Linked DNA regions of Homo sapiens: region 2 is linked to region 1. The links come from fine-mapping of genetic effects on gene expression. A gene starts in region 1. The other region holds a variant in brackets. All regions are shown on one strand. Distances are between the middles of the regions. Region 1 holds the start of LDLRAD2 (low density lipoprotein receptor class A domain containing 2). Region 2 has its middle 12 kb from the start of HSPG2.

Region 1 (5,348 bases):
GTTGGCTCTTAGGATCCGGGAGGTCCCTTATTGTGACTCTGCCACTAGCCACCACCTTCTTCCCTCCCGTTGGACCCAGTCCCTGCCATCTTGTGCTTCGGGCACCCCTGCCATTCCCCTGTCGGCAGCGGCCCTCACCGGGGCCCCCACTGTGGCCCCAGTCCCGCATGGCCTCTGCAGAGGGTCCCGTCCCGGCCTTCAGCCCCAGCTCACCCAGACGGAAAGAGGTGACTTCGCCCACGAAGTCCACGCGGGGCTGGCGGCCTCTCGTGACCAGGCGCAGGCCTAGAAAGGGTCCGGAGGATGCCACAGGCACCGGGATGTTCAGGCCGCACAGTGGGGACCCCAGGGGCCGGGGCGCCCCCGGCGGGCCCTCGTAGAACTGCAGGTAGGAGCCGGGGGCGCACGGGTCGGCCGGGGCCGGGGAGGAGGTGTTGAGCGCCGGGGGCGCGGGGGTCAGGCTGTAGACCAGGAAGAAGCGGAACTGGAAGCGGATCCGGTCGCCGGGGGCTGCCGCCTGCACCCAGAGCCCGCAGTCGGTGTCCGGAGCCACGAAGTAGAACCTGCGCGATGCGGCGTGCGAGCGCAGCAGCAGCCCGTCCCCCTGCCACGTCTGCCCGCACAGTTCCGCCAGGTCGGCTGCAGCGGAAGGCACGGAAACTGGAGCCGCGCGGCGCGACCCCGAACTCTACTCTGTCCCCTGCCCGCTGTGTGATCCCAAGCGAGTTACTCGCCCTCTCTGAGCCTCATTTTCCTCATCGGTAAAATGGGGATGATTAATCAATCTCAGAATGATTGTAAGGATTAAATGATTTAATTTAATTTAATTCAAATCTACAATCCCTTATTCGAAACCCTAAGATGCGGGGCCGAGCGCAGTGGCTCACGCCTGTAATCCCAGCACTTTGGAGGCCAAGGCAGGTGGATCACCTGAGGTCAGGAGTTCGAGACCAGCCTGGCCAACATGGTGAAACCCCATCTCTACTAAAATACAAAAAATTAGCCGGGCATGGTGGTGCGCACCTGTAATCCCAACTAATCGAGAGGCTGAGGATGAGAATCGCGTGAACTCTGGAGGCGGAGGTTGCAGTGAGCTGAGATCAAGCCACTGCACTCCAGCCTGGGTAACACAGCGAGACTCCGTCACCAAAAAAAAAAAAGGGGAGGGGGAGAGCTGTGTGATAAGGAGCCCCTTTTCTTCCTGCTTTTGAAAGCTGCTGACTGAGGATGAGGATGGGATGTCCAGAGCTGCAGCAGCCATTTTGCAAAGATGAGGTCAGAGCATTTCAGAGGAACAGTGACATTGTTGAGCCGTTGAGTTAACCATCTCTGGAATCACCTATGACCACTCTTAACTGAAATAGCAAATATCCTACCATTTAAGCCCCATTTAGTTTGTTATCTGTTACTTACAGCCCAAAACATCCTCACTGGTACAGGGTTGTTGTGAGGATTAAATGAGAAGATGTGCAAGTACTCAAAGTAGCCCTGATTTCTGTAAGCACAGAGAGGAAAGAGGAGGTGGGTTTTCTGGTGCAAGATAGGGACCAGTGGGTACTTGAGGACCAGCCAGGATGTGGGTCTTTGAGGAAAAAATCCTTCATCAGAGCTCAGGATGTGGGAGCACTTTCCAATATTTGGTATTTCTCTGCTAAAGCCAGAGCCTACCCTGAAGGTACACAGGGCAGGCATGGAGTTTAGAGAGTAAGGGAATTGGGCACCCTTTTTTTTTTTTATTTCTTTGAGACGGAGTCTCTCTCTGTTGCCAGGCTGGAGTGCAGTGGCGCAATCTCGGCTCACTGCAGCCTCCGACTCCCTGGTTCAAGCGATTCTCCTGCCTCAGCCTCCCAAGTAGCTGGGATTACAGGCACATGCCACCATGCCCAGCTAATTTTTGTATTTTTAGTAGAGATGTGGTTTCACCATGTTGGCCAGGATGGTCTTGATCTCGTGACCTCATGATCCGCCCGCCTCGGCATCACAGAGTGCTGGGATTACAGGCGTGAGCCACTGCGCCCAGCCGGGAATTTGGCACCTTTTATGTGCCAGGTATTATGAAGTGCCTTGCATGACTTATCTCATCTTATATGCCAATAATCATAGTCCCTTAAGGGGCAAGGGCCTATTATTTTCATTTTACTGCCAAAGAAATTCAGAGAGTTGAAACAATGATCTCAAAGGTACAAACATAAGAAGTGGCAGAGTGTGTAAATGCAGCTTCTCTGAATCCGAAGCCTACAGAGTTTTGCAAAGCAGGCCCTGAGGGCTGTCCTGCCCACTCCCAGACTCCTGCTTCTAGGTGACTGGCAGATCCAAGCCTTCCAGAAGGCTTTGGGTTGGATTTGGGGATGCCAAGCAAGACCAGACACAGTTTCCCAGCCTCCCCCAGCTCAAAAGGTCTCAGCCCAGCAGGATGAGTGCTGACTGGGGAAACATAGTCTCTAAGGATGGTGGGGGCCCAAGTCTTCTGGGTGCCCCAACCAAGCCCCCTGATACTTACCTGTCTCCAAAGCAGTTGCAGTCAGGGCGGCTGCCCCCAGCAAGAGCAACCTTTGGGGCAACTGCAGAAGACAACAAGCCTCCATCCAGGCTCTGCTGTGCCCAGCAATGGGGCAGACCCACAGAATCTTCAGCTTGGGGTCTCTGGGGAGACTGGAGTATGGGGCCTGGTCAGGCCAGCAGGGAGGCTGGTGGGACACAAGGAGAAGGGGGAGGCAAGTCTTCACTATGATCTTAGTGCTTTGCCTTCCAGATCCTCTTCATTTGGTTCAGAACTGTGTCCAGGGGTTGCCATGGAGATTTGGAGCAAGGGCTAGAGCCTGGGGAGAGGAGGCAGGGAGGAGATCTGCTCCCCTTCTGCCAGACAGGAACCAGGAAACTCAGATCCGGTTCAGCCATAGGGCTTCTGGGAGGAGGACCCACAGGAAGCCAGATCTGCTACCTTCCTAGATCAGCTGGCCCCTTAGGGACTGAGCTTGAGGGAGGTCCAGGACACCAAAGGAGCCTCTCTGAGGGCCTAGAGAGCAGCAGGCAGAGAAGGAGCACTGGACCAGGAGTCTGCTGTATTACTAACAAGCCATTCCTGCCTCAGGGCCTTTGCACTCATAGATCCCTCTGTCTGGAGTGTTGTCCCCCCATAGCAGTGCACGGCTGACTTCTTCAGGTCATCAGGTTGTGGCTCACATGTTACCTCCACAGACCACACTCTCCTGACCACCTCTCCAACTAAATTAACACTCTCTCTCTTTGTCACTCAATCACATCTCAAATGTATCATCCCAGCACTGTCTGGAATTATTTTGCCTATTCATTTCTTCTTGTATATATTGTCCACTGGCCTCCACTAAAATTATATTCCATGAGTATCTTGTTTACCTCTGAACCCTTATGTCATAGCACAGTCACTGGCACAAGGCAGGCGCCCAGGAAATAATGAAAGAATAAGTGTGTGGCATTGAACAAATGACCCCTTTTTCTGGATTTTACTTTCCCATGTGTAAAATAAATACCCTGGACTAATTCAGACTTTTTCAAAACGTGTTATTAGTAGAACAATTTTTTTTCAAAAGGTATGTTACAAGGAACCTTTATCTATAAAACTGAAGCTTTTCAAGCCCTGGCATCCTTCTCTGGAAAATGGGATAATGATTAATTCCAACCACATAGTTGCATTGTAAGAATTAAGTAACTTGGCCTGGCTTGGTGGCTCATGCCTGTAATCCCAGCACTTTGGGAGGCAGAGGTGGGTGGATCACAAGGTCAGGAGTTCAAGGCCAGCCTGGCCAACATAGTGAAACCCCATCTCTACTAAAAATACAAAAAAAATTAGCCGGGCATGGTGGTGCATTCCTGTAGTCCCAGCTACTCAGGAGGCTGAGGCAGGAGAATCGCTTGAATCCGGGAGGTGGAGGTTGCAGTGAGCTGAGATTGTGCCACTGCACTCCAGCTTGAGCAACAGAGTGAGACTTCATCTCAAAAAAAAAAAAAAAAAAAGAATTAAGTAACTTAATACAAGTGGGGTACTTGGAATAGTGTCTATCATGTAGTAAAGTAACCAATGTATTTCAGCTTGAATGATGATCATTAATGTCATCGTTATTATTTAAGCAGATGTTTCAAGTGTGGGGGAGGGGAGGAGCTAAGCAGCCCAAATTGGCAGTGCCTGAGACACCACCTCAAAATCCCAGGAATCCATGAGAAGGTTAAGACCTCTGGACCTGGCCGGGCACAGTGGCTCACACCTGTAATCCCATCACGTTGGGAGGCCAAGGCAGGCGATCACCTGAGGTTGGGAATTCGAGAGCAGCCTGGCCAGCATGGTGAAACCCCATCTCTACTATAAATACAAATATTAGCCGGGCGTTGTGGCACAGAGGCTGAGGCACAATAATCGCTTGAACCCGGGAGGCGGAGATTGCAGTGAGCCGAGATTGCACCACTGCACTCCAACCTGGGCGATAAAATAAAAAAAAAAAAAAACCCAAAACAAACACCTCTGGACCTATTATTCCCTAACAGCTCTCCCTCCTGGAGCGGTCATTTGATGCAACCTTGATTTCCTACAGTGTATGATGTCCAAATCTGTACCTTGGGGAACTCCAAAAAGACTCAAATCTTCCCTCAGCAAGAATGAATTTATCATGAAGCCCACTGAAGCTTAAACTTCAGAACTCATCACCTGCATGGGATTATATGGTTTTTGTTTTGTTTTGTTTTTGTTTTTGTTTTTGTTTTGAGACTGAGTCTTGCTCTGTCGCCCAGGCTGCAGTGCAGTGGCGCAATCTTGGTTTGTTGCAAGCTCCGCCTCCCGGGTTCACGCCATTCTCCTGCCTCAGCCTCCCAAGTAGCTGGGATTACAGGCACCCGCCATCACGCCCGGCTAATTTTTTGTATTTTTAGTACAGATGGGGTTTCACCGTGTTAGCCAGACTGGTCTTGATCTCCTGACCTTGTGATCCACCCACCTCAGCCTCCCAAAGTGCTAGGATTACAGGCGTGAGCCACCGCGCCCGACCTTTTGTTTGTTTTTTTTTTTTTTTGAGATGGAGTCTCACTCTGTTGCCCAGGCTGGAGTGCAGTGGCATGATCTCAGCTAACTGCAACCTCCCAGGCTGGAGTGCAGTGGCATGATATCAGCTCACTGCAACCTCTGCTTCCCGGGTTCAAGAGATTCTCCTGCCTCAGCTTCCCGAGTAGCTGGAACTACAGGTGTGTGCCACCACACCCAGCTAATTTTTTATTTTTAGTAGAGATGGGGGTTTCACCATGTTGGTCAGGCTGGTCTCGAACTCCTGACCTCAGGTGATCCGCCCACCTCGGCGTCCCAGAGTGCTGGGATTACCGGAGTG
Region 2 (5,374 bases), 140 kb before region 1:
TCCCAACAACACATCCTTTCCAGCCCAAATTCCAGGCTGGACCAAACGCACCCTCCTGAATGAGGCCAAGAGCCTCAAGCGCCTCCACACCCGGAGTGGCTCTGGCTTGGAGTCCAGCAGCTGCAGCAGCTGCTCTGAGCAGCCCTTCAACCCCACTAGGCTTCCACTGGGGAGAATCTGCATGGGCCGGCCCTGCTACTCCAAGTAGGTAGAAACAAGTCACCTGGTGAACCCCAAGGTGGCCAGAAAGACCGCTTTCCAGGGCAGCCCCTGCTGCCTGCTCTGTAAGGATTGTCCCTCGGACTCCTCCAGCCCCACTCCTCCAGCTCATCAAAGGCATCAACTACCTGGACCAATCCACCAATGCCTATAACAGCTGCCACAAGACATTGCAGAGCCTGCCAAAGCTTGCAGCCAACTACCTGGAAAGGGCTGCCAGCTCCCTCAACCTAGACCACCAGGACCACCCCTTGCCCCAGAGTTACTCCAGCCCCAGCACCAGCGTGACCATCCCAAACAACTCCACCACCAGCACCTGCATGGTGCTGTCCCTCAGGGGTGCCAGTGCCCTGCAGTGCCTGGATGACTCCACCAACACGAGTTATCCGTGCAGGTCTCATTGCCAGAACTTCACTATCGCGCTGCCACGGGGTCCACGTACAAAGCTGCCTGAGCTCCCTTTGCTTAGCAATGGGCTCTTTGCCTTAGGTTGTCTGCCCAAGGTCTGGGAAGCAATCTGCTCAGGCTGGAGTGACCCTGAGCCCATCTCCAAACCCCCAAGCTGGTGGTGACACTGACGCCAACTGTGAAACGTGCACATGCCCCTCAGGCCACAGTTGTGGAAAATAAATCGTCTGTGGCAAAATACTTCTTCTAAGACTTTGTTGGAGGGGAATGGCCATTTAGATTAGGGTTATAAACTCAAGGGCCTCTGGGGCCAGGCAGGGAAAAGTGAAATGAGAGAATTTCAGGCAGGGCAGTAGCAGGGAATGATAGACTGTGGATGGGTGGAGAGGGACTGCCTAGTCTCAACCCGCCTCTCGAACAGGTTGAGGCCTTATAAGAAAATCCAGGGAACTGATTTTTTTTTTTTTTTTTGAGTCTGAGTCTCGCCCTGTTGCCCAGGCTGGAGTGCAGTGGTGCAATCTCAGTTCACTGCAACCTCCGCCTTCTGTGTTCAAGCGATTCTCCTGCCTCAGCCTCCTGTGTAGCTGGGATTACAGGGACACGCCACCACGCCCAGCTAATTTTTGTATTTTTAGTAGAGAGAGAGTTTCACCATGTTGGCCAAGCTGGTCTTGAACTCCTGACCTCATGATCTGCCTGCCTCGGCCTCCCAAAGTGCTGGGATTACAGGCATGAGCCACCGTGCCCAGCCTCAGGGACCTGATTTTATATGTCAGCGACAAATTCAAATATGTCAGGATGCTCTGTGGGCTGAAAAAAAATACTTGCAGGCTAAATGTAAAACCCACAGGTCTCGGCTTGGAATCTCTGGTTTAGATCCTGAATGGATCACTGAGGAGGTTGCTGTCCTCCCTTAGCCTTGGTTGCCCCATGTGAAGAAACAGACTGGCTGTCCATTCCCAACTCCTATGCGTATTCCTCTCTTTTCAGGATTGTTGATTTTAGCACAGTCCCATGTGAGCAGAAATGTTTAATTAATACGAATTATAAGAAAAATAACAAGCACTCATAGAGTACTTATTATATAGCAGGAACTGTTCTAAGTTCTTGATATATGTTTATTCTTTTAAAGGTGTGATTTTAATGATCAGGGCCTAGGTTAGACATAGAGTAAAGCTTCCTGGTGGCTAGTGTGAGAGGCACTGGAACAGTCCACGAGGCACAGTAGCAGATAGTGGGATGGCCCTTTTTGGGAAATCTCTGCAGAGTGGTTCTGTCTGTGCCAGGGGAGGGCTGGAAGGATCAAGATGAGCTGGTCCCCTTTTCCCACTACGCTGAATTTCTTGCTGGGAATATCTGGGAAAATGTTCCCTGGGCCACCAAGAACTCCAACTGAGCTCCTTCAGAGACCCAACTGAGTCTGGTGCTGGAACATAGGGCATTCAGCAACCCACCATCCTGCTGGCTAAGGGACCCTGGAGACAGGGATTCCAGCCTAGTCCCACCACTAACCTGCCCTGAGATCTTGGATATACCACTTCTCACTCCAGTCCTCGGATTCCCCATCTGTAACAAGGGTGCAGTAGCTCTGATGATCTCTAAGGGCCCTTAGACTCTGATGTTTCTGAGTGTCTTCTCTTGGGAACCAGGCCAGGCCTGGAGCCTCTCAGGCTGAGGATTGAGAGTACCTGCACC[C/T]AAGAACTCAGGCCTCCTGTACCCTGAGCCATCTTCCCAGGCTAACCAGGTGCCGTTTCAGGCCTCAGGGCCCATTTCTATATGGTGATGAACTTCAGGCTTCAGGTTTCTTATTGCTTGAGCTCTCCTCATCACCCTGGCAATGTGAAGGCCAATAGCAGCTCAGACTTCAGAATGGGGCTGACCTTGAGATAATGCAGAACCTGGAGGCCCACCAGGTTCCACGGTGTTTGGAGGCAGTGGCCAGTCAGAGAAAGTGACAAACCTGAGTATCCCCACCATGAGATCACCACAGTGGTCCCAGGGCAGGAGGAGGGAAGGGGCCAAACTCCTGGCCCACTGAATTCACCCTCCCTTCTATTCCATCTCTGGAGGACAAGGGCAATCCTCCCTGGGCCCACAGTGGAGCATGTGGCATACTCCTTTCTCTGTTGCACCCCTTCCCTCCTCAGGGAGAAGACTTTGGCTTTAGTCTGGTGGGTCCTCATCTTGCCAGAGACCCATTCCCCAGGTGAACATTCGCAGGAACACAGCTTGTTAGAATCCATTTGGCCTAGTTCAAGAGACAGTTCAAGGGTGTCCCGACTCCCAAAGCCTCTGTCTGGCCATCTAAAGCCACCCTTCTCATTCCAGGGCTGTATTTTCCTGGCTCTCAGAGGCCTCAGAGCGGTCTGTCCCTGACTCTCCTGGAGATGCTCACCTCCAAAACGGTGCACTTTCTCCCAGTGAGAGTGTAAGATCCTTGCCTAGGGTGCTGCTCTTAAGGTCTCCAGTATCTAGCCCGCTTCTGGCTCATGATAGGGACTTGAATATTAGATTAATGTTGATTACAAGCCTTGCACTCAATAGGTGCCCAGTAATAATAACTACTATTATCTTAAGGATGATTACAGGGTCTCATGTAATGGATGTTCAATAATTAACAATAGTAATGATGACAGCCAACATTAATTAAGCTCTTGGTTTTGGTTTTTGTTTTTTTCTTTTTTTTTGAGATGGAGTCTCACTCTGCTGACCAGGCTAGAGTGGTGGCTCAATCTTGGCTCACTGTAACCTCCGCCTCCCGAGTTCAAGTGATTCTCATGCCTCAGCCTCCTGAGCAGCTGGGATTACAGATGTGCACCACCACATCAGCTAATTTCTGTATTTTTAGTAGAGATGAGGTTTCATCATGTTGGCCAGGCTCGTCTCAAACTCCTGACCTTGTGATCCACCCGCCTCAGCCTCCCAAAGTGCTAGGATTACAGGTGTGAGCGACTGAGCCCAGCCTGTTTTTTTTTTTTTTTTCTGAGACGGTGTCTCGCTCTGTCGCCCAGGCTGGAGTGCAGTGGCACAATCTTGGCTCATTGCAACCTCTGCTTCCTGGGATCGAGTGATTCTCCTGCCTCAGCCTCCTGAGAAGCTGGGATTACAGGTGCCTGCCACCATGTCTGGCTAATTTTTGTATTTTTTAGTAGAGACGGGATTTCACCGTGTTGGCCAGGCTGGTCTCGAACTCTTGACCTCAAGTGATCCACCCGCCTTGGCCTCCCAAAATGCTGGGATTACAGCATGAGCCACCGCCCCCGGCCGCACAGCAACTCTTTAAGGATGGTACCATTATCCTTATTTTACAGATGAGCAAACTGAGGCACAGAGTGGTCGGGTATAAATGAGTATGATAAAGATGATTAAAGTGCATAGAACACATTGGCTTTTCAGAAAATATTCGGTATTAACATTACGGAGTACTATATGCAGAATAGGTACACAATAATATAATTATCTTCACAGGGACAACATCTTGCAAATGCAAGGTGTTCTGCAAATGCACACAGTAGGTGCTCAATGAATGGTAGATGTCATTATAGAGCCTCGTACTGAGTAGGTGCTCAAATGAGGTTTTCCCATTGGTTGGGGTTTGGATTGTATCCCAGAGAGACAGGATCTCAGCCCTTTGCCCAAACTGCTTCTCAGGATAGATACTTACTGTTCACAAATCCCTTCCACAAGTTATTCAGCCAGAGTTCAGGGAAAATAAGCCTGTTAGGGAAGGTCCTCTGCTCCACCTGGCCATGCAGAGGCCACAGGAAGCCTCCCAGGTCTACAGTTCAAGCCATGCATCTGCAGGGTCCATGTAAACAGGAAGCAGCATGCTGGCTGCAGACAATGCCACAGCCTGCTGTACTGTCCCCCTTGTGTTCAGGAGTGGCCTTGGTGTCCCCGTGGCTGGGAGTGGCCGAGGAAAGTCTTTCACACTTGCAGAAGTACGTCGCTCATTGAGCACTCACGCTGTGTGCCAGGCATGCTGCCGAGGCCTGAAACGCAGGCTCTCAACCCTCCCCAGCTTGCCAGGCTAGGTTTCAGTGCCCCATTTTGAAGAGGGGGAAACTGAGGCTTAGTGAGAGGAAGTGACTGCCCAAGCGCCTGCAGCTGATTGCAGAGCTGGGATTTCAACCCAGGGTTCTAACTCTCGGCCAGTGTCCTTTTCATCCAAAGTACAGCTTCTTTTTATTTATTTATTTTTATTTCAATAGTTTTGGGGAAGAGGTGGTGTTTGCTTAGCTGCATAAGTTCTTTAGTGGTGATTTATGAGATTTTGGTGCACTCATCACCTGAGCAGTGTACGCTGTACTCAGTGTGTAGTCTTTTATCCCTCACCCCCCTCCCATCCTTCCCCCTACCAAGTCCCCAAAGTCCATTATGTCATTCTTATGCCTTTGTATCCTCACAGCTTAGCTCCCACTTTTTTTTTTTTTGAGATGAAGTCTCACTCTTGTCGCCCAGGCTGGAGTGCAATGGCGCGATCTCAGCTCACTGCAACCTCCGCCTCCCGGGTTCAAGCGATTCTCCTGCCTCAGCCTCCCCAGTAGCTGGGATTACAGGTGTTTGCCACCACACCTGGCTAATTTTTGTATTTTTAGTAGAGATGGGGTTTCATGATGTTGGCCAGGCTGGTCTCAAACTCCTGACCTCAGGCGATCCGCCTGCCTCGGCCTCCCAAAGTGCTGGGATTACAGGCATGAGCCACCATGCCCGGCCAGCTCCCACTTATAAGTGAAAACATATGATG

Evidence for each region. PIP is the estimated chance that this variant, and not a neighbour inherited with it, causes the effect.
Region 2: its variant is the best candidate, but not a certain one, in a credible set for the expression of LDLRAD2 in skeletal muscle (GTEx, PIP 0.68).

The regions. Positions count from the first base shown.
Region 1 is chr1:21,809,689-21,815,036 of GRCh38, reverse strand. It overlaps LDLRAD2 (low density lipoprotein receptor class A domain containing 2), which reads right to left and starts at 2,772. Exons shown (of 5, transcript NM_001013693.3): 1 at 2,501-2,772; 2 at 214-639. The coding sequence starts at 2,585. RefSeq lists silencers at 288-407, 4,136-4,286 and an enhancer at 2,687-2,981.
Region 2 is chr1:21,946,152-21,951,525 of GRCh38, reverse strand. No RefSeq gene overlaps it. Among named protein-coding and RNA genes, the nearest start is that of HSPG2, 12 kb to the right of the region's middle. The variant C/T (reference allele first, on the strand shown) is at 2,323.